7 linked regions of the Homo sapiens genome follow. The protein of the gene in region 2 purifies or fractionates together with the protein of the main gene of each other region. This does not show direct contact. Each region holds a gene or a part of one and is shown on either strand. Other genes may lie near its edges. The genes, in order: IQGAP3, PKN3, TRABD, GLUD1, TMF1, SLC35E1 and NGDN.

Evidence for each region.
Region 1: the proteins of PKN3 (region 2) and IQGAP3 purify together in Homo sapiens (affinity purification with mass spectrometry; one large-scale study listed by BioGRID and IntAct). This does not show direct contact.
Region 3: the proteins of PKN3 (region 2) and TRABD purify together in Homo sapiens (affinity purification with mass spectrometry; one large-scale study listed by BioGRID and IntAct). This does not show direct contact.
Region 4: the proteins of PKN3 (region 2) and GLUD1 purify together in Homo sapiens (affinity purification with mass spectrometry; one large-scale study listed by BioGRID and IntAct). This does not show direct contact.
Region 5: the proteins of PKN3 (region 2) and TMF1 purify together in Homo sapiens (affinity purification with mass spectrometry; one large-scale study listed by BioGRID and IntAct). This does not show direct contact.
Region 6: the proteins of PKN3 (region 2) and SLC35E1 purify together in Homo sapiens (affinity purification with mass spectrometry; one large-scale study listed by BioGRID and IntAct). This does not show direct contact.
Region 7: the proteins of PKN3 (region 2) and NGDN purify together in Homo sapiens (affinity purification with mass spectrometry; one large-scale study listed by BioGRID and IntAct). This does not show direct contact.

What each region holds. Positions count from the first base shown.
Region 1 is NC_000001.11:156,562,566-156,566,065, forward strand, and holds part of IQGAP3 (ras GTPase-activating-like protein IQGAP3), read right to left. Parts: coding exon 3,462-3,500; intron 2,868-3,461; exon of another isoform or gene 2,771-2,867; intron 2,127-2,770; coding exon 2,050-2,126; intron 1,260-2,049; coding exon 1,192-1,259; intron 1,102-1,191; coding exon 988-1,101; intron 748-987; coding exon 569-747; intron 101-568; coding exon 22-100; intron 1-21.
Region 2 is NC_000009.12:128,705,503-128,709,916, reverse strand, and holds part of PKN3 (serine/threonine-protein kinase N3), read right to left. Parts: coding exon 4,374-4,414; intron 4,184-4,373; coding exon 4,038-4,183; intron 3,205-4,037; coding exon 3,093-3,204; intron 3,022-3,092; coding exon 2,894-3,021; intron 2,696-2,893; coding exon 2,512-2,695; intron 1-2,511.
Region 3 is NC_000022.11:50,194,999-50,200,095, reverse strand, and holds the end of TRABD (traB domain-containing protein), read right to left. Parts: coding exon 5,056-5,097; intron 2,856-5,055; coding exon 2,745-2,855; intron 2,660-2,744; coding exon of another isoform or gene 2,648-2,659; coding exon 2,508-2,647; intron 2,274-2,507; coding exon 2,101-2,273; intron 2,022-2,100; coding exon 1,910-2,021; intron 1,752-1,909; coding exon 1,577-1,751; 3' UTR 981-1,576; coding exon of another isoform or gene 968-980; 3' UTR 501-967; downstream 1-500.
Region 4 is NC_000010.11:87,084,362-87,088,775, forward strand, and holds part of GLUD1 (glutamate dehydrogenase 1, mitochondrial isoform a precursor), read right to left. Parts: intron 1-4,414. UniProt on the Homo sapiens protein: Mitochondrial glutamate dehydrogenase that catalyzes the conversion of L-glutamate into alpha-ketoglutarate. Plays a key role in glutamine anaplerosis by producing alpha-ketoglutarate, an important intermediate in the tricarboxylic acid cycle.
Region 5 is NC_000003.12:69,024,312-69,028,725, forward strand, and holds part of TMF1 (TATA element modulatory factor), read right to left. Parts: intron 3,985-4,414; coding exon 3,915-3,984; intron 3,682-3,914; coding exon 3,589-3,681; intron 1,787-3,588; coding exon 1,685-1,786; intron 1,402-1,684; coding exon 1,249-1,401; intron 1-1,248. UniProt on the Homo sapiens protein: Potential coactivator of the androgen receptor. Mediates STAT3 degradation. May play critical roles in two RAB6-dependent retrograde transport processes: one from endosomes to the Golgi and the other from the Golgi to the ER.
Region 6 is NC_000019.10:16,552,046-16,555,998, forward strand, and holds part of SLC35E1 (solute carrier family 35 member E1), read right to left. Parts: intron 3,353-3,953; coding exon 3,107-3,352; intron 1,865-3,106; coding exon 1,634-1,864; 3' UTR 1-1,633. UniProt on the Homo sapiens protein: Putative transporter.
Region 7 is NC_000014.9:23,472,299-23,476,197, reverse strand, and holds part of NGDN (neuroguidin), read right to left. Parts: intron 1,028-3,899; coding exon 890-1,027; intron 641-889; coding exon 556-640; intron 473-555; coding exon 420-472; intron 170-419; coding exon 46-169; intron 1-45. UniProt on the Homo sapiens protein: Part of the small subunit (SSU) processome, first precursor of the small eukaryotic ribosomal subunit.

The sequences.
Region 1 (3,500 bases), on a different chromosome or scaffold from region 2:
CTCCTGCTCGAGGTCTCTTACCGTTGACATGGTTGATATTGCCCTGGATTTCAGCCTGAGTTAGGTAGTGGTCATAGATGTCCTGGCTTTCTCTGTCATCCTGCAAAAACTCCATTGAAAGGGAACCTGGGAAACCCAATTTAATCTCCTTGTCCTGCTCTTCCCTGCCTGGCTACACTTATTTCTTCTTCTGGGGACCTTCCCAAGGCCAAAGTTCAGTCTGCTCAGAATTCAGGAATTGTGGGGTCTAAAACACTTGGCACTGACATAATTAAGCCAAACCAACCTTTGGAACCTCCAGTCCAATCTCATTCTGTTCTACATTCCAGCACCCCTCTCAGGCTTCCCTGAAGATCATCCCCCAAGAACCTCTTCTCCAGTCTTCTCTTCGGAATTCTCATCATTCTTCCAAGTTCCTTTCCTATTTCTCTAAAATCACTGATAAATTATGGTTTCTCTAAGAAGCAATTTTGGATACTAGAGACATGACAGATAGGAGTCCCGGTTTCACTTGAGACTTTCCAGCCACTCAACTTTTCGGTCCCTGCAACCCAAGACTACTCCTTACATGGTTCCTGGCATTGGCTGCCTTCTCCATCTTGGCCTGGGCCAGCATCTCTTGGTAGACGGCTGCCAGAGGCTCTCGGAGATTCTCCAGAAGAGCACTGGGATTCTGCAAGGCAGCCAGGGTGTCCTCCACCACCCCTCGCTCCACTGCTTCATTGATGGCAAGAACAGCTGCATGGACTGGGAGAGGGCATGGAAACAAGGTCAGGAGGCCAGAGTGAATCCCAGATTGGAGCGCAACCAGTAGCAGCCCACTCTAATGTCATCCTTTTTCCCACCCTCAAGGGCCAGACAAACCAGGTAGCCTGATGGCCCTATCTGTGGATGAGAGCTGGCCAGAACCCATCCAATGGCTGTGAGGCTTGGAGCCCTCCCATACGCATTGAGCCTACTCCTGGCAGGGCAGAGCCTAGTCCTTACCTGCAGCCTCATCCACCGAGAGCTCATTGGCCAAGATGCCCCCGATCTTGCTGAAGGCAGGCAGCTGGAGGCCATATTTGGCCAGTTCGGACGCCATGTTGCTGAGTTCCTCAGCTGCAATGATGCCACAGGTGCCCTTCATCAGGCCCAGAACCCCCAAGACCCTGCCCAGGCTGTGGTGGTCAGGGAAGGAGCTGGGCTTACCTGTGAATTTCACTTTCCCGTATAGATCATGTATCTGAGGGGCCAATCCCAGCCGGAAGAGGAAGAGACTAGGAAAAAACGGAAGGCATTGGAAGGCACTGGGGCCTATTCATTTTGACACTCTGCCCACGATGGGTTTGAAGGGGATACTATGGGGACCTAGAGATGAAGACCACTCAGCACCTGCCCTCAAGTCATCCCCAACCCACATAAAGAAATATGACCATAAATCAGCCCAAGGAAAGTGCTGCAGAAGGTAAATAAGATGGTGTTGGGGGTCTGAGGGGATTAGGAAGGCTTCACAGAGAAGGCCACATTGCAGTAGCAGGTCACTCAATGGAGAGAGAGGACAGGAAGGGCGCAGCAAGCAGATACCTGCTGAGCTAAGGCACAGGGGCACAAAGGGACATGGGAAGTGGTCAGAAAGAGATGGCATGGTAAACACAAGGAACCGGTCGGTCACTTGCTGTGATTTAGCCAACTGGTTGCTGATGGCTGGCTGTAAGTAGGACCAAAGAGCCTACACCATCCATACTAAGTGTCTTGCCTGTGTTGCTCTCAATAGGTCCTGTTCTGATTCCTTTATACCCAGTTACAAACTGAAGGCCCTACCCTGCTACTTTCCTATCTCTGGTACCCTGCCTGCCCTTCCCCTTCACCCACACAGGCCATACATAAATGTGCCCACAGACATGCACAAAAATCTAAACACAACTCTGTAAATCTGAAACCTCACTCTCCTGAGCAGTGCTCCCTGTGGTCTACCCTTCATCCTTCTTTCTTGCTGAGTTTGTTGTTGTTGATTGTTGGTCGCATCCACCTAGAGGAACCTGGATGATAAAATTTGAGGTCTCTCACCTGAGAGCATGGATGCAGTAGACTACCCGGGGCATGTTCTTTTTGTCATAGATGTCCGTGGTCTCTGGGAAGAAGGTCTAGAGGAGAAACCAGCCAGTTACTGCCATTGGGAACCTTTAAGCACCACCAAATGCGGAGAGGGGGTGCCGAGGAATGGGTCTTCCTCTCCAACCTGAGGTGTGTGTTCCCTTGTTACCTGGGGTGTCTAGGTCAGTCTCCCCCAACCATTTCTAGTCAGCCTAGTATAAAAGAAATTCACTGAGGATGCATACTAAGCCAAGGCTCAGCCACAGACACATAGTCCTAGGGTGCCCTGGATTAACCAAACACCAGATAAGGCCATCAAGGCTACAGGATATAAGCCATATCCTCCAAAAACAATAACAGCAACAACAACAAAAAACCAGGCCCCCAGTTGTCTTCCAGATGTCTATAGTGAGCCTGCATGCCTCACCTTAGACCCTTGCCAGAGATGTGGTATGCTGGAGAGCTGGCCTACTCCCATGCAGGGCCCAATGAAGCATATATTGCCAAGGACCACAAAAGTGTCAGGCTGTTATCCCTGTCTCCAAGCCAGCGGCTTCTGATCAATGAGAGCCCTTCTAAGAACCGAGTGGCACCAGGTATGGCTTCTCAATGCCACCTGACAACTGTAATGAGGCCTAACCTCAATATATCTTGGTTATATTTAGATTCACAATAAAAGACCAAATTTAGAGACCTAGAGTGTTCCAGTCCCACTGAAGACACATGACCTCTATTGCTTCTGCCTCCCATCGAAGTGTCTTTACTGCTGTTTCCTGTCTTATAGTGCCTTTCTACAGGGAAGAAAAACAAAGCAGAAAGAAACCATACATTGTAGAATCCTATCATGCCTTCATTTGTATAGCTCTTCACAGTTCACAAAGGGAGTTCACACAGACCATGTGATCTTCCTGACAACACTGTAAGGTAGACAGGGCAGGGCTCACTATCCCCATTTTACAGATGAGTAACAAATTGAGGTTCAAAGAGTGAAATCATGTGTCCAGTTGGGGTTTTGGACCTAGGCTTCTAACTCAAAGTCTGCCACCTAGGGATGTGTATACCCTTGCTTCACACTGTGAAATTTGGTGGAGACAAGGCTGGCCAATACGAGCATGACATAGCAGCCTCCCACCCCCTGCATAATGGGAACCGTGCCACTCAGGCCAGGGAAACTTCACCTCCTTTCATCCACAGGGAAGAGGAGGCAGAGAAAAAAATAACCTGGTTCAAAGACACACAGCTGCAAGGAACTGTTCTCTTAGATTAAGTTAGTTTAGAAGACACATGGAAATAGGGCTAAAGGGTCCAGGGAGATAAAGCATGGGATTGTGGGAGGTGGCTGGTAAGGAGTAAAGATGAATACCAATCTTCAGGCCCAGTATTACCGAAGGCAGACCGATGTGGGCTATTGCAGATAGCCAAAA
Region 2 (4,414 bases):
TCTCACTCTGTCACCCAGGCTGGAGTGCAGTGGCACAATCTCAGCTCACTGCAAGCTCCGCCTCCCAGGTTCATGCCATTCTCCCACCTCAGCCTCCCGAGTAGCTGGGACTACAGGCGCCCGCCACCACACCCAGCTAATTTTTGCAAATTTTTTTTTTTTTTGAGACAGAGTTTTGCTCTTGTTGCCCAGGCTGGATTCCAATGGTGCCATCTTGGCTCACTGCAACCTCCACCTCCCGGGTTCAAGCAATTCTCCTGCTTTAGCCTCCTGAGTAGCTGGGATTATAGGCATGCACCACCAGGCCCGGCTAATTTTGTATTTTTTAGTAGAGACGGGGTTTCTCCATTTTTGTCAGGCTGCTCTCGAACTCCCGACCTCAGGTGATCCACCCACCTCGGCCTCCCAAAGTGCTGAGATTACAGGCATGAGCTGCCGTGCCCAGCCTAATTTTTTTTTTTTGAGACGGGCTCTCTGTTGCCCAGGCTGGAGTGCAGTGGCGCGATCATGGCTCATTGTACCCTCAACCTCCCTGGGCTCAAGCAATCCTCCCACCTCAGCCTCCCAAGTAGCTGGGACTACAGGTACGTACCATCATACCTGGCTAATTTTTTTATTTTTTTATTTTTTTTTGAGACAGAGTCTCGCTGTGGCCCAGGCTGGAGTGCAGTGGTGCGATCTCGGCTCACTGTAGGCTCCGCCCCCCGGGGTTCCCGCCATTCTCCTGCCTCAGCCTCCCGAGTAGCTGGGACTACAGGCGCCCGCCACCACGCCCGGTTAATTTTTTGTATTTTTAGTGGAGACAGGGTTTCACCGTGTTAGCCAGGATGGTCTCGATCTCCTGACCTCGTGATCCGCCCGCCTCGGCCTCCCAAAGTGCTGGGATTACAGGCGTGAGCCACCGCGCCCGGCGATTTTTGTATTTTTTGTAGAGATGGAGCTTTGTCATGTTGCCCAGGCTGGTTTCAAACTCCTGGACTCAAGTGATCCACATGCCTCACCCTCCTAAACTGCTAGGATTATAAACATGAGCCACTGAGCCAGACCAGAAAACTCTTTCTTTTTTTTTTTTTCTTGAAAGAGTTTTGCTGTGTCACCCACGCTGGAGTGCAACAGTGCAATCTTGGCTTACTGCAACCTCTGCCTCCCAGGTTCAAGCAATTCTCTTGCCTCAGCCTCCCCAGTAGATGGGATTACAGGCATGCGCCACCACGCCCGGCTAATTTTTTTTGTTTCTAAAGATGAGGTTTCACTATGTTGCCCAGGCTCGTCTAGAAATCCTGGGCTCAAATGATTCGTCCACCTCAGCCTCCCAAAGTGCTGGAATTACAGGCTTGAGCCACTGTGCCCAGCCAAGAAAACTTTCTTTTTTTCTTTTTTTTTTGAGACTGGGTCTCAAAAAAACTCCTGAGCTCAAGCAATCTTCCCACCTCAGCCTCTCAAAGTGCCAGGATTATAGGTGTGAGCCACTGCACCCAGCAATTTTAGTTTAATTTTATTATTTTTTTTCCAAGGAAATTATTATTATTATTTTTTGAGATGGAGTCTTGCCCTGTTACCTAGGCTGAAGTGCAGCGGCGCAATCTCAGCTCACTGCAACCTCACCTCCTGGGTTCAAGCAATTCTCCTGCCTTAGCCTCCCGAGTGGCTGGGACTACAGGCATGTGCCACCACATCCAGCTACTTTTTTGTATTTTTAGTAGAGACAGGATTTCACCATGTTGGCCAGGCTGGTCTTGAACTCCTGACCTCAGGTGATCCGCCCACCTCAGTCTTCCAAAGTGCTGGGATTACAGGCATGAGCCACCATGCCTGGCCCAAGAAAACCTTTTTTTTTTTTTTTTTTGCGACGGCGTCTTGCCCCGTCGCCCAGGGTGGAGTGCAGTGGCGTGATCTCGGCTCACTGCAACCTCCGCCTCCGGGGTTCAATCAATTCTCTGCCTCAGCTTCCTGAGCAACCAGGATTACAGGCACCCGCCACCACGCCCGGCTAATTTTTGTATTTGTAGTAGAGACAGGGTTTCACCATCTTGGCCAGGCTGGTCTTGGAACTCCTGACCTCATGATCCACCCACCTCAGCCTCCCAAAGTGCTGGAATTACCAGCGTGAGCCACCACGCCCAGCCTAGAAAACTTTCTAACAGTCCAAGCTGCCCAGTGCTGGGTATCAAGCTTTCCAGGGCTGCGAGCTTCCTAACACCAGTGCTTTAAGCATTATTCTGGTTATTTATGTAAATACAAGCTACGCTGTCCGAGTGCTGACTGTGCTAGGCACTGTGCTTAGCACATCACGTGCAACACAGCAACCCTATGAGGTAGGTGCTATATCATCCACATTTTACAGATGGATAAACTGAGGTTTGAAGAAGGAATGTCAGTTTGCCAAGGTCACGCTGCTAGTGGGTGCTGGGGCAGGACTGGAACTCTTGAACTCTTCATCAGAGTTGTTTGTGCTTCCGGCCTCCCCCCAAAAAGAAGGAGAGCTTTGAAGGGGGAGGAACTTCTGACTACCTGTTAGGGCGGTGGGCTTCACAGGTGTCCCTGAAGGCTGGGGGTATCCAGGCACCGCAGCCCGCAACTCTCGGGTCACTCTGCTGCGCAAAGGGTGGGCAGGAGGCAGTTGCTCCAGCAGCTGCTCCAAGGCCAGGCGCAGGAGGTCCAGTTTCTGAGAGGACTCCTGTAGCTGGGCCTGGGCCTGCAGAGGGGACAACGTAGAGCCAGGTTCGTGGGGTATATGGCAGGGGGCAGCAGCCCAGGTCACCCGGAGCCACCTTCCGCATGAAGTCTCAACAGAGAAGTCCTGCTTTTACACGGCCACCCTCCCTTCACACCCCTGCTGAGGGTGGTATGGGAACAAGCCAGCCTTAGGAGAGGGCCAGGGCTGGGGCCTGACCTCAGCCAGTGCCTTGCGGTCCTGTGTTCTCCGGCTACTAAGCAGTTTCACCACGTTCTTGGCGCCCTCAGCCACAGCTGCCTCAACGTGCAGTCGATGCTGTAGCTCCTCCGCCAGCAGCTCAGGCCCTGTGGGAAGGACGGCGGCTCTCAGGCCCTGCTCTTCCCTGCTCCGCCCTCCCTGTGTCTCAAGGCCTCACCTGGCTCCGGGGACCCACTGGCCTCCAGGCTGCTGATCTTCATCCGCAGCAGGGCCACCTTCAGCTGGCTGTCCCGCAGCATCTGCTGGGCAGCTGCCAGGAGCTTCCTCTCCTATGGAGCCATAGCACAGGCCCATCAGACCAGGCCTGGGCCACAGCTTCCCCCATCAGACCAGGAACTGGAGCCGGGTCTCCCCCATCAAAACAGGGTTAAAGTGAAACCTCTAGGCCAAACACTAAAGTCAAGCCTCCCTTGTTGGACTAGTTGGTGGGTCAGGGGAGCCTTTTCCATCTGACCAACAAGGGCTGGGGTCAAATTTCCTCTTTCATATCACGGCTGGGGTCATGCCTCTCCCATCAGATCAGGGCTGGGGCTAACTCTCCCCCATCAGATCAGGGCTGGGGCTAACTCTCCCCCATCAGATCAGGGCTGTGGTCATGCCTCCCCCATCAGAGCAGGGTTGATGCTTCCCCCATCAGATCAGGGCAGGGGCTAAGCTAAGCCTCCCCCATTAGATGAGGGCAGGGGCTAAGCTAAGCCTCTCCCATCAGATCAGGGCTGGGGATAAGCCTCCCCCATCAGATCAGGGCAGGGGCTAAGCTAAGCCTCCCCCATTAGATCAAGGCTAAGGTCCTGCCTCCGTCATCATATCAGGGCCACAGCCAAGTCTTCTTGTCAGACAAGGACTGAGGCCCAGTTCTGGACATCATGCTGGGAGTTGGGACTGGGGCTGGGCTAGGATCCCATTAGACCAGGGCAAGGCCTTCTCTGTCACACTAGAGACTACAGCCATGCCTTCCTCACCCAGCTGGGGTTTGGGGCTGTATTTTCCCCATCAGGCTGCAGGCTGGAATGGTGTCTCCTTATGAGCCCAATGGCTGAGGTGCATTTCCCTGTCAGACCAGGGGCCAGGGTGCTCCTGCCATCAGACTGTGGGGCCTTACCTTGGGGGTGCCACTGGCGCACGTGTGGGTCATGTTCTCAGCCCCCTGCTTCACCTTCAGCTCCACATGCAGCTGCCTCCGGAGAGCCTCTAGGTGCCGAGCCCTGAGCTGCTCTGCCCACGGCCGGGGTCCTGAGGCCACAGGCTCTGTGCACGGGGGTATCGAGCACAGGAGTCCCTCACCCAGAGCCGAGACCCCCACTGTGGCCTTTCCTCCTTCCCCTACTGATCTATAGGCAGGAAATGAGGTGGTCTCGCCACAGTGGCCAGGGCCAAGGCCAGGGGCCAGATGGGCCTAGAGCCTTCTGTCCTGAGGGGGTCTCAGCTCCTCACTCACCAGCTGGGCCAGGCCCAGGGCCGGGCAGCAGGATTCGGGCG
Region 3 (5,097 bases), on a different chromosome or scaffold from region 2:
CCTCCGCGTGCGTTGGGCAGGTAACTGGATGAGGGATAATGTGGTGAGGTCCCCGTGCCCAACCCTCCTCTGCAGCCCACAGCAACCGTTCCCTCTTCAGCAGCCCCCTCCCCCCGGCCGCTCTGGGCGCCCGTTCCCAGCATCCTCCTTGGCAGGTGTTACCCCTCCCCATTCCCCAGGCCCTGGGCCCTCCTGATCTGTCTCCTCGACCCCCTGGGGCCCCAGTCTGGCTCAGTCTGGTCCACACTCTGGAATCTGGTGGGACTGGGTATGGAGGGTCTTGAGTGTCAGCAGGCCACCTGCGTCCCACCTGGTGGGTGAGAAGGGTCCCACAGGTCAGCATGGAGGGACCCGACTCTGTCTCTTCTGCTGGAAACCAGGCAGGTTCCTTCCCCCAGGGCCCCGGCAGGGCCACGAGTACCCGCTGCACTGGAGCACGGGGGAAGAGGCAGGGATCCTTCATTACCTGAACCCCATGTTCACACGTCACAAAACAGGAGTTTCCAAAATTAGAATTTATTTCAGTTTCTAAGGAATGAATCCCCGAGTGTGGCAGGAAGGACACAGCCGGCTCCTGACGCACACCTGATTTGATTCAACACCGAGTCGGCACAGACACAACCAGAGATGGCCTGGGTCCAGGCTGGGGCTGCACGGGCTGTGTCCTGGACAGCCAGGAGGGAGGCCCCGCACACAGACGGCCGCCGGGCAGGGGGCCTGAGCGGGACAGGCCTGGCCACAGCCCATGTCCTTGGCCTTCCACATAGGTGCACACATTGTCTGCCCAGAGAGGGCCAAGATGCCCCAGGCACCCCTTCGCTCCGGGGGCTCAGGACACAGGCTCCCAGCTGAGGCCACGCCTGGACCCAGAGCTGATGTTTGGCTGCACGCGAGCCCACTCGGGACAGACCCAAGAACACGAATTCTCTCCCTTTGGATTTAAGGCTGGTGTTTTTTGACATTTACTTCAGTTTTTCTCTCTGAAATTAAAATTACCTGAGTAAAAGATTTTAAGACATTAAAAAAGCCAAAAACACAGAATCCCTGCAGGCAGACGGTGCCAGGGAGGTGGCGGCCAGGGCCAGGATGCCAGGGGCACGGTGGGGTCGGCTGGAGCTCCAGGGCTGGGCCTTTCCCAGTCTCGCCTGCCCTGGAGCCCCCAGGAGCCGCCCCTGGGCCGACGCTCCTGTGGCCGGAGCACAGGAAGGCACAGTGAGGTAGGGACAGTGGCCATTGTCCCCCGCCTGCCACCAGGGCTGAGAGGGCAGCGCACGCCTCGGCCCCTCCTATAAGCCCCTGCCCCCTCGGAGCTGGGTGTCTTGTCCAGAAGCTGGGGAACGGCCCCTGCAGTGTGGGAGGGGAGGGGCTGCCGGGAGGCCTGAGCTCAGACAGTTAAATAATCCTTTATTTGGGTGGGCTGGGGGAGGGGTGACTGGCCCAGGAGGGCAGGCGAGGCCGGGCCCAGACCCCCATGGGGGGTGGCAGGGGCCTCGGGCGGGCTAGGATGCACCTGGCACCCAGAAGTGCCGCGGGGGCACTGGCTCCTCAGGGGCCCGAGCGGGCGGGGAGCAGTCTCCTACTTGTGCCGGGCCTCGGTCACCCTCTGCAGGCAGTACTGCGCGGCGGGCAGCGACAGGACCAGGCTCGCGGTGCGGCGGCCCATCCAGTACAGGCTGTAGCCCAGCAGGCCGAAGAAGGCGGCCTTCACGGCCAACCGAGACACTCTGCCGGAGACGGACGGCGGGGGCACGCTGTGGGAGGGAGGGGGCGCTGGGCCTGGCTGGGGGTGGGCTCCCCATACCCCAGCCCCCATGCCTGGGTCACTGCCGCATGTGGTTGGCCTCCAGGGCGCTCAGCCTCCACCTGGGGGCTTGTGGGGTGGGGCTTGCAGGGAGGGGCGGGCACTCACGTCATGATCTCCTGGATGTTGAGGTCGGTGCTCCAGTTCTTCTCGATGCCAGGCACGTGGCCCATGCCCACGACGCCCACGACCACGGAGGGGACGCACTTCCTGGGCTCGGCTGTGGGGAAGGACAAGGGGTCAGTACCTGCTCGGGCCTCAGCCTCACAGGGGGTCCCACGCCTGCGGGCGGCCGTCACCGTCAGAGGCCCGAGGCAGCTCGAGGCGCCGCGCGGCCTGGCGCAGCATGTAGGTTAGGTAGACGTCGCGCTCCGAGACGATGGTGCGGTGCAGGTCTGGGAACTCGCCAATCATCTCGGCCATCATCTGCTCCAGTAGGTCCTTCTGCTTGCAGCGTTCCACGTCATCCTTGCTGTGGAGAGGGATGGCTGCAGCCCCGCAGGGATGGGCAACGGGCTGGGGGGGTGGGGCTGGCACTGTGGACACCGGGCAGGGACCACAGCACGTTTGTTTGGGATTTGTGGCGGAAGGAAAGGGCAGGGAAGGCCTTGAGTGAGGATTGGCTGCGCTTGGACCTGCACAGGAGGGCCTGGAGCCTCCCACAGACCACCCTGCAGGCCGGCCAGGGTCCCGGGGGCAGCCCTACCTGATGGGGTCTGACAGGAAGCACAGGCCCCAAGCCAGCCTGACCTTCTGCCAGAAGGAGAGCGCTGCGATGGCCCTCTTGAAGGTGACGGGGATGGGTCGGTCACCCAGGTGGAACTTGCAGAAAGGCACCTTGCTGGCCTGGAGCAGAGGCTGGGTGTTGGGGAGCAGTGGGAACCCCGGACCACCCCTGTGAGCCACATCCCTGTGGCCACCCCCTACCTCACCCTGTGCCCACCTCCTTGAAGGCCTCCCTGAACTCGCCACCTGGGGCCATGCCCAGCTGCTCGGTGATGTGTGCAGACACCTTCAGCAGCAGCATCTGCATCAGCCCCGACATGAGCCCGTTCTGCAGAGAGAGGGAGCAGGCATCAGCTGGAGGGGCGGGTGCGGGGGTGCGCTGGGGGAATGGCAGAACTGGGATGGCAGGCAGCACCAGCGCAGAGCCCTGCCCCAGCCCAGTGCTGTGTCCTTGGCCCCCTCCCCGACAGGTGCAGGACCACCCTAGCGTGCAGAGGGTCAGACCAGAGCAGGGAGTTCTGTCCCAACAGGCACTTCTCAAAGGTAGCTCCCTTCAGAAAAGACCTTCACGGGCCGGGTGCAGTGGCGCACGCCTGTCATCCCAGCACTTTGGGAGGCTGAGGCAGGCGGATCACGAGGTCAGGAGTTCTCTCTCAGACCAGCCTGGCCAACATGGCGAAACCCCATCTCTACTAAAAATATAAAAATTAGCCGGGTGTGCTGGCGGGTGCCTGTAATCCCAGCTACTCGGGAGGCTGAGGCAGGAGAATCACTTGAACCCCGGAGGCAGAGGTTGCAGTGAGCCGAGATCACCAGCCTGGGTGACAGAGTGAGACTGCTCTGTCTCAAAAAAAAAAAAAGAAGAAGAAAAGGCCTTTATGAGGCAGTCTCGTTCTGCGAAGGGGCCGCCTTGAGCTGGCACAGACGCTGGGTGCTGGGCAGGCAGGCTGGAGAAAGGGCCTCACCACTCACACCTGCCTGCTGAGGTCAGCACAGCACTGCTGGTGCGGACACCAGGCCACCCCCATCTTCAGCAGCTACAGCCCGAGGCCTATTGCCCCTGTCTCACCGGCCGGCTGGCACCACGGGGGTGTCCACGTGTGAAGGAGATGATGCCCACAGAAGGGCAGCAAAGCCCCGGGGGCCACACAGCGCCGGGCAATCGCTCACACCTGCACGCGCCCAGGGACGGTCTGGGCCTGAGCCATGAGCCCTGGGAATGTCCCGCCTGATGGAGTGCCCGTGTTTCCCCGGGGCCCAGGCCACCCTGGGGAGCCCAGGCTAACTTAGGATGAGACATTCACGAGGCCTTGGTCCACTGGGACCCACTCCACCTCTGGAGGGGCTGGGGTCTGAGCTCAGACGTGCCTGTGACCAACCCCAGTAGAAACCTAGACACCAGGGCACAGCGAGTGTCCCCCGGGAGGGGACAGGTGAAGCGGACACCTGGTGTCTCCCAGACCCTGCCCCACGCCCCCTTCCCTCTGTGACACCGCAGCAGTGAGCAGCACGGCACTGCCGAATTCTATGCCCCTTCGAGATCACTGGGCCCCAGGCTCTGGTGGGGAGGCTGCCCAGTGCTGGGCCCTGGCTGGACCGGGGACTGCCCTTTAGAAGACGGCCCACAGAGGTCTTCTTTGGTGACTTGCCTCATCTGGAGAAATTAAAAAATGAAAGGCAGGCGCCAAACGTTTAGGGACATTTCTATAAGATCTCATTATAATTGTTTCCTTTGAACAGGGGGAAGGCAAACTGACCAGGGCTGGGGTCAGGCGTGCTGGGCCCCCTTTGAAAACACAAAGCCTGGCCGGGCGCGGTGGCTCATGCCTGTATTCCCAGCACTTTGGGAGGCTGAGGTGGGTGGATTGCCTGAGCTCAGGAGTTTGAGATGAACCTGGGCAACATGGTGAAACCCCGTCTCTACTAAAAATACAAAAAATTAGCCAGGTGTGGTGGCAGGCACCTGTAATCCCAGCTACTCAGGAGGCTGAGGCGGGAGCATCACTAGAACCCAGGAGGCGAAGGTTGCAGTGAGCCAAGATCGCACCACTGCACTCCAGCCTGGGCAACAGAGCGAGACTCTGTCTCAAAAAAAAAAAACAAAAACCGAAAACACAAAGAGCAATGAGAAAGTCCTGCCTCTCCGGTCACTGCAAGGCTGGAGAAGTGGGGACAGGAGGAGCCCTGAGCCCCACCCACTTTGGGCCTGGGTGTGGTACCGGGGGGGCCAACCTTGCACTGAGACCTGACCCATCCCCAGCAACTGCTCAGCAACCCAGTCCTCGGGTGACCAGCCCCTGCCTCAGCTTGGAGAGCCACCCATTTCCTCCTCCCTTGCCTGAAACCGGGTAATGGAGCCTCTTTCATTTCTCCTGGCCCAGGGGAGGTCCCTAACCCGGCAATCCCCAGGGCAGGCCAGGCACAGCCACACTGACTGGGGGCATGGGCTGTGAGAGGAACCTGGGCAACAGGCAAACAGGTGGCTTTGACCCCGACCCTGACCCTGACCCTTGCCCGCGGCTGCGCACCTGCCTCACGGCCTGCTGCAGCTTCTCCAGGCTGAGCTCCTG
Region 4 (4,414 bases), on a different chromosome or scaffold from region 2:
TATTCCTTAGTATGCTCAAGTCTAATGAGCAGTACATGCTAAGTTTCTCTAGGAGAAATAAAAATCAAAAGCAGAAACTAGCTTAAGTTGCTATAGTGATGAAGAAAACAAACCAGCTCATTACTTTAAAAAAGATTCAGTGAAAACCACAATTGACTAAGCTTGAATTTTTTTTCCTTTTCCTAGCTGACTCAAAAGCAAACACAAAAGCCTCCAGCTAGTCACTGTTTTTTATAATTAGTCATTAACAAAACATTTATGAAAATTCAAGTGGTTTTAAAATTACTTGAACCTGGTTCTCTTAATAGGGTTTGATTTATTCATCAGAAATCTAATTTCCAGCTGCACTCTCTCACTTTTCAGGAACTATTTATTCAGTAACCAAGAGTTCTACCAGAAGCACAGAACCACCAGAAAAGCAAAAATGCCTCAGAACAACTCTTAATATTTATAAGTTAACACTCTTGCCACTTACTCATCAGATTATATTTTTTCACTTAATATTAATGTACCTTCTAACCCACAATAATGTAGCGTAACTTAATTTAAAATGAAGAGAGGAAGGTTAGAAGCAGGGAGGAACTCTCAATGACCACCCACAAGTAATGACCACCTGAAATACTACGTCTCAGATAAAAATTCAGACATTCAGCATGGGAAGGAGCACTGCATATAGGAGCTAAGAAAAAGTACACACTTTAGGCTGGGCGTGGTGGCTCACGCGTGTAATCCCAGCACTTTGGGAGGCTGAGGTGGGCAGATCATTTGAGGTAGGAGTTCGAGACCAGCCTGGCCAACATGATGAAACCCTGTCTCTACTAAACACACAACAAAATTAGCTGGGCGTGGTGGTGCACACCTGTAATCCCAGCTACTGGGGAGGCTGAGGCAGGAGAATCGCTTAAACCTGGGAGACCGAGGTTGCAATGAGTGGAGATTGCACCATTGCACTTCAGCCTGGGCGACAGAGAGTGAGACTCCGTCTCCAAAAAAAAAAAAAAAAACCAGAAAAATTATACTTTAATTGCTTTAGCAGCATCAATGTACTGTTTTGTATAAAGTAGGCAAATACCATCTTAGATTTTTAATCCAGTCTAAATCTTTTATTTTAACCTGAATAAATTTTGAAGAGGTAACTAAGCTTTCTGGGAAGCAAATGTTTAGCTGATATTAGAAAAATATAACCTATTGACACATCAAAGAAAAAACGGAAGAATACTTTTTTCATTAAAAATTTAAAATTATAACACATATGTATGTATTTCTATCAAAATTTAAATACAAAAAGAAAGCTGAAGACTCCCTTGACTTCCACTTATGACCCCAGTCTTCTCCTTAGGGGTGACTATTCTTAGCAATGTAAGTGTATATCCTTCCAAATCATGTTCCCTGCAATTATATATGTACATATCCATAAAACATACAGCTTTGTTTTGTGTTATTTAACTTACAGCCTGACAGATGGAAGATTATACATTAAAAGGGGGATTTTGTTAATTTTTCTTGGTAGATTCTTTTATTCTGATCTTGATTAACAGTAACTTAGCTGCACTTTCACACCAAACAGGTCTTGGAATCGGAAATGATGCTAGTTAAAATGGTGAATATAAAGTTGGATTTAGTAAAAGGTAACAATAACTTGTTATTAAAAAGTTTCAAAGGGATAAAGGCTTGAAACCTCAGCTATCCAGTTTCATATAAATTATTTACAAGTCTACGTGATAATTTGAGATGGGTCTTAAGAGAGGCAGAGGAATCCTAGGGAGGGGGAAGTGAGGCATGGACAGGCAGAGGGACTGCACTATTCAAGGGCATGATGGAGAGAAGTACGTGCCTGGATTTCCAATTTCCCTAAGGATAATTTTACACCAGATCTTCTTTATTTTAAAAATCCAATCCTTTTCCTTAATAACCCCATCTGTCCCTGATACCACCATTTTTTTCTACCAGTCTCTCAGGCTAGAAATTTTGTGGTTATCTTTGCCTCTTCTCTCCTTCATCCTGTAAATCCTACCTGTTGGGAATACATTACTGTCCTTTCTTCAAAATGTTTTATCTGTCTTTTCTTTTTCATTCTCTGCTATTAACTATAACTTCATTCTCAGTTCCACTGCTGCCTAGCTTTCTGTGCCCTGCTAGATTCATCATTATTCATCCAACAAACATAAAAGGAAAAAATTGGCCTGGCGCGGTGGCTCACGCCTGTAATCCCAGCACTTTGGGAGGCCGAGGCGGGCGGATCATGAGGTCAGGAGATCAAGACCATCCTGGCTAACATGGTGAAACCCCGTCTCCACTAAAAATACAAAAAAAAAAAAAAATTAGCCAGCGTGGCGGTGGGCGCCTGTAGTCCCAGCTACTCAGGAGGCTGAGGCAGGAGAATGGCATCAACCCAGGAGGCGGAGCTTGCAGTAAGCCAAGATCGCGCCACTGCACTCCAGCCTGGGAGACAGCGAGACTCCGTCTCAAAGAAAAAAAAAAAAAAAAAAAGGAAAAAATTGTTTTTTCTCACACATTTCTGACACCAAATGTGTGGGTTTTCCACACTAAGCAGTTCTCCAGTTCTCTGCAGATACAAACTGGGTGTCCTGCAATTCAGTTATGACACTGACTACCAGGGTTAGCACAGACCCCACAGCTCAAGGGCTCAGTCGCACAAGACTGTTCCCTACTTCAGATGCCAGTTCCAAGTCTTGGGTGCCCAGGGCACCCACACTTCTGTCCAACTTGGCTACCAACCAGGGGGTTCCCATGGCCCCCTCCTCAGGTTCAATAATGTTATAAAGGCTCACAGGACTCAGGGAAACGTTACTTATGTAAAGGATACAAATCAACAGCAACATGAAGAGGTACACAGGGCCATGTCTGGAATGTCCCCACTGCAGGAGCTTCTGTTCCCCTGGAATTTGGAGGGTACCACCCTACCCATACATGGATGCATTCACCAACCTGGAAGCTCTCTGAACTCTCCCCATACTCCAGCCATCAGTTAGGGTTTGTATAGAGGTTCCATTATGAGGGCATGACTGATTGCTGATTAAACTCAATCTTCAGCCCCTTTCCAATCTCCAGAGGTCAAAGGGTGGGACTGAAAGTTCCAAATTTCTAATTATGGCTTGGTCTTTTTGGTGACTAGTCCCCACCTTGAAGCTACCCAGAAGCCCATTAAGAGTGTCCTAGTTAGAACAAAAGATGCTCCTATCACTCAGGAATTTGCGACATTCAGGAGCTCTGTGTTGGGAACCAGGCAAAGAGACCAAATATATTTACTGTCACAAGCCCTTATTTCTCATTATTTACAAATGTAGTTTGTCCTCATGACCCCCTTACACACAGTTCCACTTCCTGCCTTGGGTGAAGCCACCCCCTCTTTATCTGAAATGGCCTTATCCAACTCCTATCCAGCCTTCTCTGTTCCCACATCAAGACTGTCTGTCTGCCAGGCACGGTGGCTCACGCCTGTAATCCCAGCACTTTAGGAGGCCGAGGTGGGCTGATCACATGAGGTCGGGAGTTCGAGACCAGCCTGACCAACATGGCAAAACCCTGTCTCTACTAAATATACAAAAATCAGCTAGGTGAGGTGGTGCATGCCTGTAATCCCAGCTACTTGGTAGGCTGAGGCAGGAAAATTGCTTGAACCTGGTAAGCAGAGGTTGTAGTGAGCCAAGATCGCGCCACTGTATGCCAGCCTGGGCAACAAGAGCAAAACTCTGTTTCAAAAAAAAAACAAACAAAAAAACAAATAAACAAACAAGATTGTCCTTGGTTTCCTTGAACTCCTACTGCAACAACACATGATTTACTTTGTTTTGTTTTTTTTTTTGTCATTTATTGACTGGTTCTAGGAAAGGAAAATGTAGAAATGGAATACTGAGCTTATAGCAAAACAAAAAAGACATAGGGTACAAAGGAGATTTGAATCTGCTCTACTTGGGAGAAATCAATGAAAAAAAATATTCCAAGAAATAAAAAAATTCAACTTTGTTTTTTTAAAAGAACCCTCTGCATAAAGTTCAGAGATCTTGCCTGCAGGAACAAAAAACACATAATAGAAAAATTGATTTACTTAGAATATAGACTATAGTTCATAATAAAAGCAGTCCTTATTTGGTAAACCTTCAATACGAGTACATCACCCTTGGTTATTTCTTTGCTCTTTCTCTCTTGGCATAAAAGAAAAAAAAAATTCATGCAAAATCCTACTAAGGCCCAATATGTACAAAATATCTTTTAAAAGTCCTATGTTGATATATTTGTGATAATGACAAACGATAAAAGAAGTCATACTACTGACAACCTTTGAAATTTTCATTTGTCATCTTTCACATTTTCCTCTAGCCTAGAAGCAAATCAGAAGAATTACGTCTGATAGACTTTCTCCAAGAATAATAATCAAGAGAAATAGCAATTC
Region 5 (4,414 bases), on a different chromosome or scaffold from region 2:
GAGCTAGCTCTTTCTTAAGTAAAGGAAACAGTGGCAGAAAAACGGTCCCAACTTTCCTGAGAGGTATACCGTTTATAAGGTTTACTGTGCAACAGAGATAAATCCAATTATTTGTTTGAAAACATTCAACCATATATTTTTCTAATCTAAGGAAATGACATATATTTCAGTTATTCTAAATTACTACAAGAACCCAGAGAAATAAAAATATACTTTAACGTAGCCCCACCTGTGTAGGTTGTATCGACAGAGGCTTTCATCACTACCAAAGAAATTAATTAGGTCCCTGTATAGCATACCAGCTATACAAACATCTGGGATTCAGATTAGTCTGATCTACTTTTTGCCAATTCAAGTTCTTTAATATTTTCATATAACTAAAAGTATATAATGGGAGTTGAATTTTTACCTACTTCTGAGTGTATTGTGTTTAACACTGAAAAGAGGTATCCTGATTCAAAATGCTTGAGACCAGGAATGTTTCAAATTTCTTTTTTTTTTTTTTTTTTTTTCAGATTATGGAATAATTGCATTATGTACTTACTGGTTGAGCATCCCAAATCTGGAAATCCAAAATGCTCAATTGAGCTTTTCCTTTGAGCAGCATGTCAGCACTCAAAGTTTTGGATTTGGGGGCATTTCAGATTTCAGAGCTGGGATGCTCAAACCTGTAAAACATTTCAATATTTCTGACTGCATAAAGTTTTTTAAAAGCCAAAAAGGTAAGATGGAAGGATGCTCCATCAACAACTCATGTTGTTTCCTCCCATGTACAGGGTGTTACAGTTCAAACATCTCATCCCCTTTACCCCTCCTTCCCGGGGTAGCTGGAACAACTTATCTAAGAGGTAAATCTGAATAGAACAGGCATTCACAGCTCAGTGACTTCCCTTTATTCTGTTGGGAAAGAGCTGCTTGAAAGGAGGAGGGATTCTCTGCTCCTAGATGCTTATGTCTTATGTAGGCAGGTTGTAAAACATGGGAGGCCTGCTCCAGCCCAGCATTTCCTGTGACAGATCAGCCGAATATGCCTAATTCTGGCAATTAGCAGGTTCAGTTGGCTGTTATCCTTAGCTAATTTCTCTTTTTAGCCTTTATCATTGATATATGTGATACATTTTGGGCTTCACATGCCACTATGTCATCTTGTTTCTCAATTTGCTCAGAATTCAGATGGAAATGAAGGGTGCTATTTATTAGGCCTCAAAACTTCATTTACTTCTATAGCAAATTTAATTTTTCCAATACCTGTAAATGAGTGATTTCCCCTTCCCTTAGCTTTAGCTGAGACTGTAGGTTTTCAATTATGCTTGATCCTGCTCCCATCCTTACAGCATCATAAAGATTGCTTCCATTTGCTGATATAGGCATTGGTCCAAATGAGTGATCATGAGACTCATCCTATGTTAATTAAGAAAGTTCACACAGTTACTCAGTTATCATAGCTTGTCTTCCATTACCAGGTTCGAACAAAAATGGTTCTGTCAATTTTTGCTTTAAATGTCTTCTCAAAGGCAGAAAATCATTCACGTGTTTCCTCTCACTAAAATTAGCACTCCTCCACAAGTATTCAGATGAATTACCCATAGAATGGCAAGGTCATGATGACAGACAATATTGCCATTTGCATATTTCCTTTATTATTATTCTAAGAACTAAGCACATATAAAAAATAAAACATCACCTGAGACAGAAAAGATGTCTGTAGTCCTGCCATATCAACACCACTTATTGAACTTGAGCGTGACATGGTGGGAGTGCTAGAAACAGAAAATGGCTTGCGTTCCTTAGGGAGTAAAAAAAATTCTGTTCATATTAAAGAGCAAAGAGATAAGCAGAGAAAGCAAGAACATTTCCTAGGGTTAATGAGAACAAAGATTCAGTCTTTTAAAAAAGCCACACTACAAAGGAATTCAATACAATCAAAAGAAGAAAAAAAACTTTTTTAAGATTCATTCTAATTTCCCCATAAAATGGCTTCTTAAGTCAAAAATACAATATTTGGCCAGGCATGGTGGCTTATGCCTGTAATCCCAGCACTTTGGGAGGCCAAGGAGGGTGGATCACCTGAGGTTGGGAGATCAAGACCAACTTGACTAACATGGAAAAACCTCGTCTCTACTAAAAATACAAAATTAGCTGGGCGTGGTGGCGCATGCCTGTAATCCCAGCTACTCGGGAGGCTGAGGCAGAATCGCTTGAACCTGGGAGGTGAGGTTGCGGTGAGCCGAGATAGCGGTGGAGGTGGCGGTGAGCTGAGATAGCACCACTACACTCCAGCCTGGGCAATAAGAGTAAAACTCAGTCTCCAAAACAAACAAACAAAAAAAAAGTACAATATTTACTAATTAAAACTGTAGCTAGACTTGGTTAGATCATCACAGAACCCATTTATTACAACAATGTAATTTGTTGGGTTTTTATAATAGAATAAGAATGTTTCTGTTAAGCTTCATATTATACAATATACTATCAATTAAACCTATTTCTGTAACATAAAATTACTAATGAGTGTTACAAATCATAAAATTTCTGGCTTATCCATTTTATTTTTAATGTATTCTTAAAATTCCAAATAAATTCAATAGGTAATTTAAATTTACCTATCGGTAGTTTAAATATATTATGCTAACTCCAAGTACACGGTAATTCTTTCAATACAGAAAACTCATTTTTATTTATTTATTTATTTTTATTTTTTTGAGAAAGAGTCTCGATCTGTTGCCCAGGCTGGAATGCAGTGATGCGATCTCGGCTCACTGCAGCCTCCGCCTCCCGGGTTCAAGCAATTCTCCCACCTCTGCCTCCCGAGTAGCTGGGATTACAGGCACATGCCACCATGCCCGGCTAATTTTTGTATTTTTAGTAGAGATGGGGTTTTGCCATGTTGGCCAGGCTGGTCTTGAACTCTTAGCCTCAAGTGATCCACCTACCTCAGCCTCTCAAAGTGCTGGGATTACAGATGTGAGTCCCCATGCTCAGCCTCAGAAAACTCATTTCAGAAAAATTACCCTCATTAACCAGAAAGAAAACAAGCCAGACTTACTCCTTAAGTGCCTATAGACCAAATGATGTGCACTGGTTTCAGTGACAGACAATTAAATTCATTTTTAAAAAGGGCAAGAGGTTTTATATTTCAAGTCCTAGAAATCATAGATCTCTTTGGATAAACTCAAAATTACTTTGGGTCCACTCTGAGCAGGACACTGATTATAATACTAGAATTCATCACTATGTTGATTTTAGACATTAAAAAAATGATACTTATAAAGCAGGGATGTCCAATCTTTTGGTTCCCTGGGCCTCATTTGAAGAACAAGAATTGTCTTGGGCCACACATAAAATATACTAACAATAGCTGATGAACTAAAAAAAAAAAAAAAAATCATGAAAAAAATCTCATGATGATTTAAGAAAGTTTGCAAATTTGTGTTGGGCTTCATTCAAAATCATCCTGGGCCACATGCCAACCAGGGCCACAGGTTGGACAAGCTTGTTATAAAGCATAGCTAAAATTAAAAAGCAATGATTAATCACAGCATCTACTAAATGGTTACACCACAAACAAACAAAAACAAAATTCAATACCTTTTCTTTTATTGTTTCTTGAGTAAAAATGGCTTTCTTCCTTTCTTGTTCAACTTTCATTCTTTCCATTTCTAACTGACTATTCAACAATGTCTAATAGAGAGAAATAAAGTTAGACAATTTCTGTGATAGTAATTCATGCCATGATAAGTCAATCTCAAAGTTAGAAGCATAAAGTATAAACTCATATTTGTTTTCCTACTAAAGACCAAGTTCCAAAAGCAGTGGCATCACCCATTTCATCTTGTTATCTCATTAATTTGCTGCCATCCCCAACCATTCTCTAATGTATGCCCTAAGAGCTGAGTGGTCACGAAGAGAAATACCTTTTCTTTCCTCGTCTCTTCAAGTGTTCTTACATATTCATCTTTTAGGTTTTCCAATTCAACCTGGTACCTATTAAACAAGGCAGAATTTAAAAAAACAGAAAATGAAAAAGATGCTAGTATAGACTATTAAAAACTCAGTACTTTATTAACTCCAGCTACATATTGAGAAATCATTTTTATTACCAGCTTGACATCAGTGATTTTCCAACAGTGTGTTCCAGATCCCATCTGAGTTTCACTCAGAAACCAAACCAAAAGTGAAAAAGCTCCACTTCTGTGCATTTTATTTATTGGTGCTCTGGGTTAAGATTTCATTTAAAAAGAGACTTTATAAAAATAATTTTGAGTACCATCATCCTATAATATGCTCAGATTCCACAAAGCTTATTAGGGAGTTCTATGAAAATGTTTCTAAAAGTTCAGATATTTTACTTTAGAAATCATTTTTACTTGACATTTTTTTAAAAAGTAAAATTTCCAAGGAAGAACAGAGGGTT
Region 6 (3,953 bases), on a different chromosome or scaffold from region 2:
AAACTGACTCTTGACCAAAGAATCTGATTTGGCAAACCAAATCTTAGTGCAGTGTTCGCTCCTCGTCCCCTTACCCAGAACATGATTCAGATCCTAACATAAACACAAAAACAGGTCAGGGAACCAAAACACTGTGGTCTTGTCTATTATACAAAATATTGAGATAATGTTCACGATTCATTCTGTTTTCAGCAATTGTGACAATTTTGAAGCTTCTCTCGAAGCTTCGAAACACTTCATTTCCTACTAAATACCAAAACGTGTCAGACAGGCATCACCAGTGGGAACTTGGTTTTGTTTTGTTTTTTTTTTTGAGATGGAGTCTCGCTCTGTTACCCAGGCTGGAGTGCACAATCTCGGCTCACCACAACTTCTGCCTCCCAGGTTCAAGCAATTCGCCTGCCTCAGCAGCCTGAGGAGCTGGGACTACAGGCACGCGACACCATGCCCGGCTAATTTCTGTATTTTTAGTAGAGATGGGGTTTCACTATGTTGGCCAGGCTGGTCTCGAACTCCTGACCTCGTGATCCGCCCATCTTGGCCTCCCAAAGTGCTGGGATTACAGGTGTGAGCCACTGTGCCTGGCCGGGGAACTTTGTTTTTAAACGTTTACAAACAAAAAGATTTTCGATGCATAGGCCAGTCCTAATGCATCCCATAATGGGGACCAAGGCAAAAACACACACACACAACTACAAAATATTCCCTAGAAAAATGCAAGATCCTCCGAAAATCAAGATCTCTCTACCAAACAACATACCAAGTCATCACAGAAGAGGTGAAGATGCCTCTCAAAAGACATGTGCCACAGAAATAGAGCTTGAAATACTGAACACGATTTCTCGAAGATCCTTCTCACCACCCCAAGAGAAGCGCCCTGCTCTGGTGAGGGAAGAGGAGGCAAAGGAGAAGAGAGAAGTTTCCCTTCCATCTGGATCTGGGTGGATGCCAACCCTGACGTGCAGGGCAGAGCACCAGGCTGCAGGAACTGGATGCTAATTGCAATCGCTTTTTGCTTTGGAACATTTGCCAGGAACTTGTGAACTGCTAAGGGGATGACCAGGAAACTGGATCCATCTCTGTGGCTGGGGATGTTTTGAATGATTCTCGCGGGCTCCCTGTCTGCTTGGTGACCCTGTTGGTCCTATGCGTATCTGCGCCAGGGAATTAAACTAGCCAGTCTGACGTTCTCAAGCACCGCCCTGGACACCCCCACTGCCAGTTCATGGTCTACAGCCACAGTGACCCCAGCTTTTCACACAGGTCCTGAATGTTATCTGGAATGCAGACACAAGTGCTCTGAGCTACACTGCTTGGGGAATAATTCCACATGGAAAGGTACAACGTGGCCAAGATCTCCGCAGGGACACGGCCCTCAGATGACAGACTCCAGGAAGAAAGAGCATGAGACACTGGTCTCTGTTTAGGTTTGCCCAGAGCTCACGGCCGTCTGCACTGCAGGCAACGCATCCTCCTGCGGCTCACGGGGGGCCAGGAACCCCAGGGCTTCTGATGGAGAGTTATGCACCGTCCCCTCGGCTGGGTTGTACATTCACTGATTGTCAGAAGTTTCTGATACTGCTGTGGGGGCCGGGGAAGGAGTCACCAACAGTCTGGTCCTGTCCTTTGGACTCTACACATCATAGCGGTTCAAACTGTACGAGTTTGGGTAGCTCTGCCGGCTGTATTGGAAGTGGTCTGTTAAGATGTTGTTGCGGCCGTACTGATAGTCCCCGTGCTGGGGGAAGAGGAGGCCGTTGTGGGGCTTCTCCAGTGGGCTCCGGTGACGCTCCTTGCTGCTCAGGTCTGCTGTGGTGACGGGGAGGAGGTGCTTCCTGGCTTGCTGGTTTGCATCGTACTTGGTCTGTGCCAGAAAGAGAGCAATGAGACAGGACATGCCCGGGGCATAAGAGCTCGTAATTCAAAGTCAATCAACTGGCTGGCTGCGGTGGCTCACACCTGTAATCCCAGCACTTTGGGAGGTCGAGGCGGGAGGATCACCTGAGCTCAGGAGTTTGAGACCAGCCTGGGCAACATGGCAAAACCCCGTCTCTACTAAAAATACAAAAAATTAACCGGGTGTGGTGGCGCATGCTGTAGTTCCAGCTACTCAGGCGTTCTGAGGCACAAGAATCACTTGAACCCAGGAGGCGGAGGTTGCAGTGAGCTGGGACCATACCACTGCACTCCAGCCTGGGAGACAGAGCAAGACGCTGTCTCAGAAAAAAAAAAAAAAAAAAAAAAAGTCAGTTAACCTCCGGGGCCGGCATAAGTCATAGGGCTTGAGCAAGGAAAGCAGACTTGAATGGACCAGACCACAGTGCATGGACAGACTCAGAAGACAAGTCCTTGGCCAGGCGCAGTGGCTTATGCCTGTAGTTCAAGTGCTTTGGGAGGCCTAGGCGGGAGGATCACTTGAGGCTAGGAGTTGGAGACCAGACTGGACAAAATAGAGAGACCCCATATCTACATGTGTTAAGAAACAAATGAAGAGGCCAGGTGTGGTGGCTCATGCCTGTAATCCCTACACTTTGGGAGGCCAAGGCAGGTGGATCAACTGAGGTCAGGAGTTGGAGGCTGGCCTGGCCAAGATGGTGAAACCCCATCTCTACTAAAAATACAAAAATTAGCCAGGTGTGGTAGGCGCCTGTAGTCCCAGCTACTCGGGAGGCTGAGGCAGGAGAATCGCTTGACCCCGGGAGGCGGAGGTTGCAGTAAGCTGGGATGGAGCGCCACTGCAATCCAGCCTGGGTGACAGAGCCAGACTCCATCTCGAAAAAAAAAAAAAAAAAAAAGAAAAGGAAAAGAAGGCAAGCCCTCCCTGTTGGCCATCCCATGTCCTTACACCGCACTAAACAGAGCCTTTGAGAGGAGGGAGGGAAAACCCCAGCTGAGACACAGCCGGAATGATTTGAGGACCTGAGGTTGCCTATGCAGGAAAAAGGAAGCCAGAGTGGGATGGGGCTACGCCAAGATCATAAACCAGTCAGTGGCAAAGCTCTGACATACAACCCCAGCCTTGAGCGCCCGGGAGGCCCTTCCTTTTCTGACTTCCTGGGTGTTGGGGGGCCGGCTTCCTTCCCTGCCCAGCCTCTCAGACTCTCACCTTGTTATAGAGGAAGACCCCCAGGATGGCGGTCATCATGCCCAGGACGTTGGTGCTGGTGACTGGGTTGCGCAGCATGATCAGGGACACCGTGATGACCATGATTCTTTTGGTGGCATTGGCGACCGAGTAGCTCAGGGGGCTAACGAGGTTGAGGATGCTGAAGGCGATAACATTCTGGGCAAAGTTACAGAAGCCGCTGACAGCCAGGAGCAGGAGCGTCCAGGGCCACTGGTAGACGTAGGTCTGCAGAGACCGGAAGGTAAAGACAGCACTTCAGTGGGCAGCGGTGACCCTGCCTCCCTGTATCCACCTGGCAGGGTTAGGGGAAGGGATGTGGAGGGGCTCATCTGGAGCCTCATGGTCCACAGGCAGCCAGTCCAGATGTGTCACCAAGAGACACTAGGTGCTTTAGGTCCATGACCTCAGAACCTCATGACACCACACAGCATGGGAATCACCCGCCGTCTCCTGCCAAGGAAACAGGTGAAGCCAGGTCCCCAAAGGGCACCAAGCAAGACGTAAGCCAAAGCCTTCCCTGGCAGTGAACAGCCAGGAACCCTGGGTTTGGCAAAGCAGGGATCTGCTTGTTGGACGCAATGCATTCTACAGGGTTGGAGGTCCTGGGAAGGTGGCTCTGAGCCTGCGAAGTACCTGGTAATACGAAAGCCACGGGTCTGCACCTATTGCTGCGAGGATGAACAGAATCATGGCTTTTGAAGTGCTTTACAACAATCTCAAGCCAAACAAACACAAGAGGTGACGTTACCATCAACAGCTGAGGCCAGGTGCAGTGGCTCACACCTGTAATCCCAGCACTTTGGGAGGCCGATGCAGCTGGATCATC
Region 7 (3,899 bases), on a different chromosome or scaffold from region 2:
AAGAGAAACAGTTCATGCTGAGGAGGCAGCAGCCAAAGTTTATACCATAATGTACTGGAACCAAGCGTGGAGGAACATATTTCTTAGACACTCCCTTCACAGATTTCTTCCCTGAAGCCTCAGACTGGTCATCTTCTGCTTCATCTTCCTCCTCATCCTCAGAGCTCAACTACAAAAGAAACAATGTCTGCAAATTTAGGAAGCATTCATGAGATAAGTGAGAAGAAAACCCAAAGCTGGAGTACCCTGGGGTGGTGGGAATATAAAAAGGGAAAAAAGGGAATCTCAAACTCAGCATTCTAACACACAAGTTGGAAAATCAAGTCCTAAGAGAATCCCAGGGTATCCAGGATCACCAAGAGGCTCATCTAGGTATAGCTGCCTCAGAAAAAAATCAGGAGAATACTACAACCCCTTACCTTGCTCATCATATTGCTGGGATGAGGCTTAAAACGAAGTGGGTCATTCTCACCTGAAATAAATAACCCAATGAATTTTACAAAATTTGGAACTTTCTGATGGTCCCCACAACTTCATGATGGTCTCCTCACTTACTAAGGCTGCCTGTCACTGCAGTCTTGATCAGCTTGTCAATTTGATACTTCAGCTTTTGGTCCAAGGGACGAAGCTTTTCCAAAACCTACAACATGGTAGTTAATCAGGATTATATTTCCTTCCCAAAATGAAGCACACACCAGAGTCCCTATATTAAGGTGCCACATAAGGCACCTAAAATATGTACAAAGTAGAGCAAATGAATAGAAAAATACCTTTTCTCATTTGGTTTCCTTAAACATGAGAAGACTCACTTAAATGAGAGCTACTGTGTGATACCCTTGGAGCTCAAAATTTAGAAACCTAAAACTCCAAGAAGCCAAATGCTTCATACCGTGCGAATCTCCACCAGTCTCAAAACTGCATCATGTCCCTGAAGAGATCCTCCTGAGGCTTTGTCCAGAATGAGGTGGGTCAAATCCATAAGGTACATGAGCAGCAGCTGGTCTTTCACTTCCAAGAAGCTGAGACCCTGAGTTGAACAAAACAGAAAGAAAAACAGATTTGGTTTTAGCCAAAGAACCAGATGAAAGCCTAGGGTAAACGGGATGTTTTTCCAAGTTCAAGATTTTCCCAATCAGTTCATATTAGGTATCTGGAATAGTCTCAAGAAGTAGCTATGCCTAAGAAGGCCAATGAGAAAGTTATGCTAATACAAGAGAAACAACGCTCAGAAAATTAATAGAAGACAATGAGAAGAGGAAAATCAATAAACTACCCCCCCAAAAAAGACTATAACAGGGTTTCTCAATCTCAGAGCTATTGACATTTGAAGCCAGAACATTTTTTGTTGAGGGCTGTCCTGGGCATTGTAGGTTTCCAGCAGCATCCTTGGCCTCTTCCCACGGATGGCCCCTCCAAGCTCTAACAATCAAAAATGTCTCCACAGACTGCCAAGTTTTAAATTAATTTAATCAAAGTAATTACCAATTTCCCCCCATACAATGGAATTATATGATACAGGTAAAAACAATGATTTATATATAATGACATCGAATTAAATCCATGTCACCACAAGTTGTAGAAAGTGTAATATGACTTCAATTGTGAAAGTGTGTGTGTGTAGGGGGGGATATGATGAATACATTTTATACACATAGAAAAATGTCTACAAGACAACACACAAGTAACTGCTACCCCTAGGGTGAGATGAGGAAAAGGAAGAAATGGTGTACTTTAGAGTGTGAAAAAGTGTTGCATATATTATTCTTATAATTTTAAAAATCTCAAAAATATTACCACAGTGGTTATCTCAGAGTGGTGATTATACTGATTTTTCATTTTTTTCTTTGGGCTTTTATGTATCTTCCAAACTTCACAGCCCTGAGAAAACCTATTTCAGAGAGGTTAAATACTTGGCCAAGATAACACAGTAATACAAGTAGAGCTAAGATTCAAACTCAATCTGACTCCAACACCTCATCCCTGGATGTCTTTAAGCCAACATGCTAAGCTCTTGAGATCAACACTACTGTGGTATAGAAGGAGAGCAAAGGATTTAGAGTCCACAAACTGAGTTTAAGTTCTGAATTAGGTGTTTGGTAGTCAAATATTGAGTAAGTCACTTAACCTTGTGACCTCAGTCTTTTTTTTTTTTTTTTTTTTGAGATGGAGTCTCACTCTGTCGCCCAGGCTGGAGTGCAGTGGCACTGTCTCGGCTCACTGCAACCTCCACCTCCTGGGTTCAAGTGATTCTTCTGCCTCAGCATCCCAAGTAGCTGGGACTACAGGTGCCTCCCACCACGCCCGGCTAATTTTTTGTATTTAAGCCAAATATTCTATGGGTAAATACAAGTATGAAAATCATTGTTAATAAGAGTCACTGAAGGAGTTTTAAGCACAGGAGTTATAGCAGATTTGTGCTTACAGAAAGATAACTAAAAACAGCATTCAAAATATATTCCCTTCTTGTCTTTATCATTCACTTATGTTCTTACTGTCCATTTTTATTTAAAAAAAATTTAAATCTTTGTTTAAGATTTAAGAGACGGGGTTTCGCCATGTTGGCCAGGCTGGTCTCGAACTCCTGACCTCGTGATCCACCTGCCTCAGCCTCCCAAAGCACTGGGATTACAGCCGTGACCCACTGCACCAGGCCAACCTCAGTCTTATCAGTAAAATATGTACATTTCCTCCCTGCCACAAAGAATAATTATGAGGCCCAAATAAGATAATGTGAAAGAACTTTGTAACCTATAAAGCACCTAGTAAAAGTCTTTGGTCAAAAAGATAAGTTAATATGTATTTGTTCAATAAATAAACAAATATATAGGGATCTAAGAAGGATGCTGGCAACTCATCCATCTCCAAAAGGCACTGAAATGGTTCAAGGCATGGTACCCAAGGCCTGGTGTGGTGGCTCACACCTGTAATCCCAGCACTTTGGGATGCCGAGGTGGGTGGATCACCTGAGGTCAGGAGTTCGAGACCAGCCTGGCTAACATGGTAAAACCTCGTCTTTACTAAAAATACAAAATTAGCCAGGAGTGGTGGCGGGCGCCTGTAATCCCAGCTACTCGGAAGGCTGAGGCAGGAGAATCACTTGAACCCAGGAGGCAGAGGCCGCAGTGAGCCAGGATCGTGCCACTGCACTCCAGCCGGGGCGACAGAGGGAGACTCCATCTCAACGAAACAAAACAAAACAAAAAAGCATGGTACCCAGGACAAAAACAGGTAAGAATTTGAGAAGCAGGCTCTTCCGACGTGCTTGGGCATTGTCAAATTCAAACTGAGCTACAAGCATATGAGAGAAAAACAAAGATTTAAATTTTTTTTAAATAAAAATGGACAATAAGAACATAAGTGAATGATAAAGACAAGAAGGGAATATATTTTGAATGCTGTTTTTAGTTATCTTTCTGTAAGCACAAATCTGCTGTAACTCCTGTGCTTAAAACTCCTTCAGTGACTCTTATTACAATGATTTTCATACTTGTATTTACCCATAGAATATTTGGCCTAAATATCTTAGGACAAAAGCTCAATATATAAAAACAGATAATACCAGAGTTTTCCAGTTAAGTAGGGATGAGAGATCCAGAGTTGTTCTTCCACATTGCCCCCAACCAGTAATCCCTGAGAAGGTTCTACCAGACCTTCATTTGAAAACTACAATATTTTAATTGTTGTTGTTTTGTTTTTTTCAGATGGAGTCTTGCTCTGCTGCCCAGGCTGCAGCACAGTGGCATGATCACGGCTCACTGCAACCTCTGCCTCCTGAGTTCAAACAATTCTCCTGCCTCAGCCTCCCGAGTAACCGGGATTACAGACAGGCACACGCCACCATGCCCGGCTAATTTTTGTATTTTTAGTAAAGATGGGGTTTTGCCATGTTGACCAGGCTG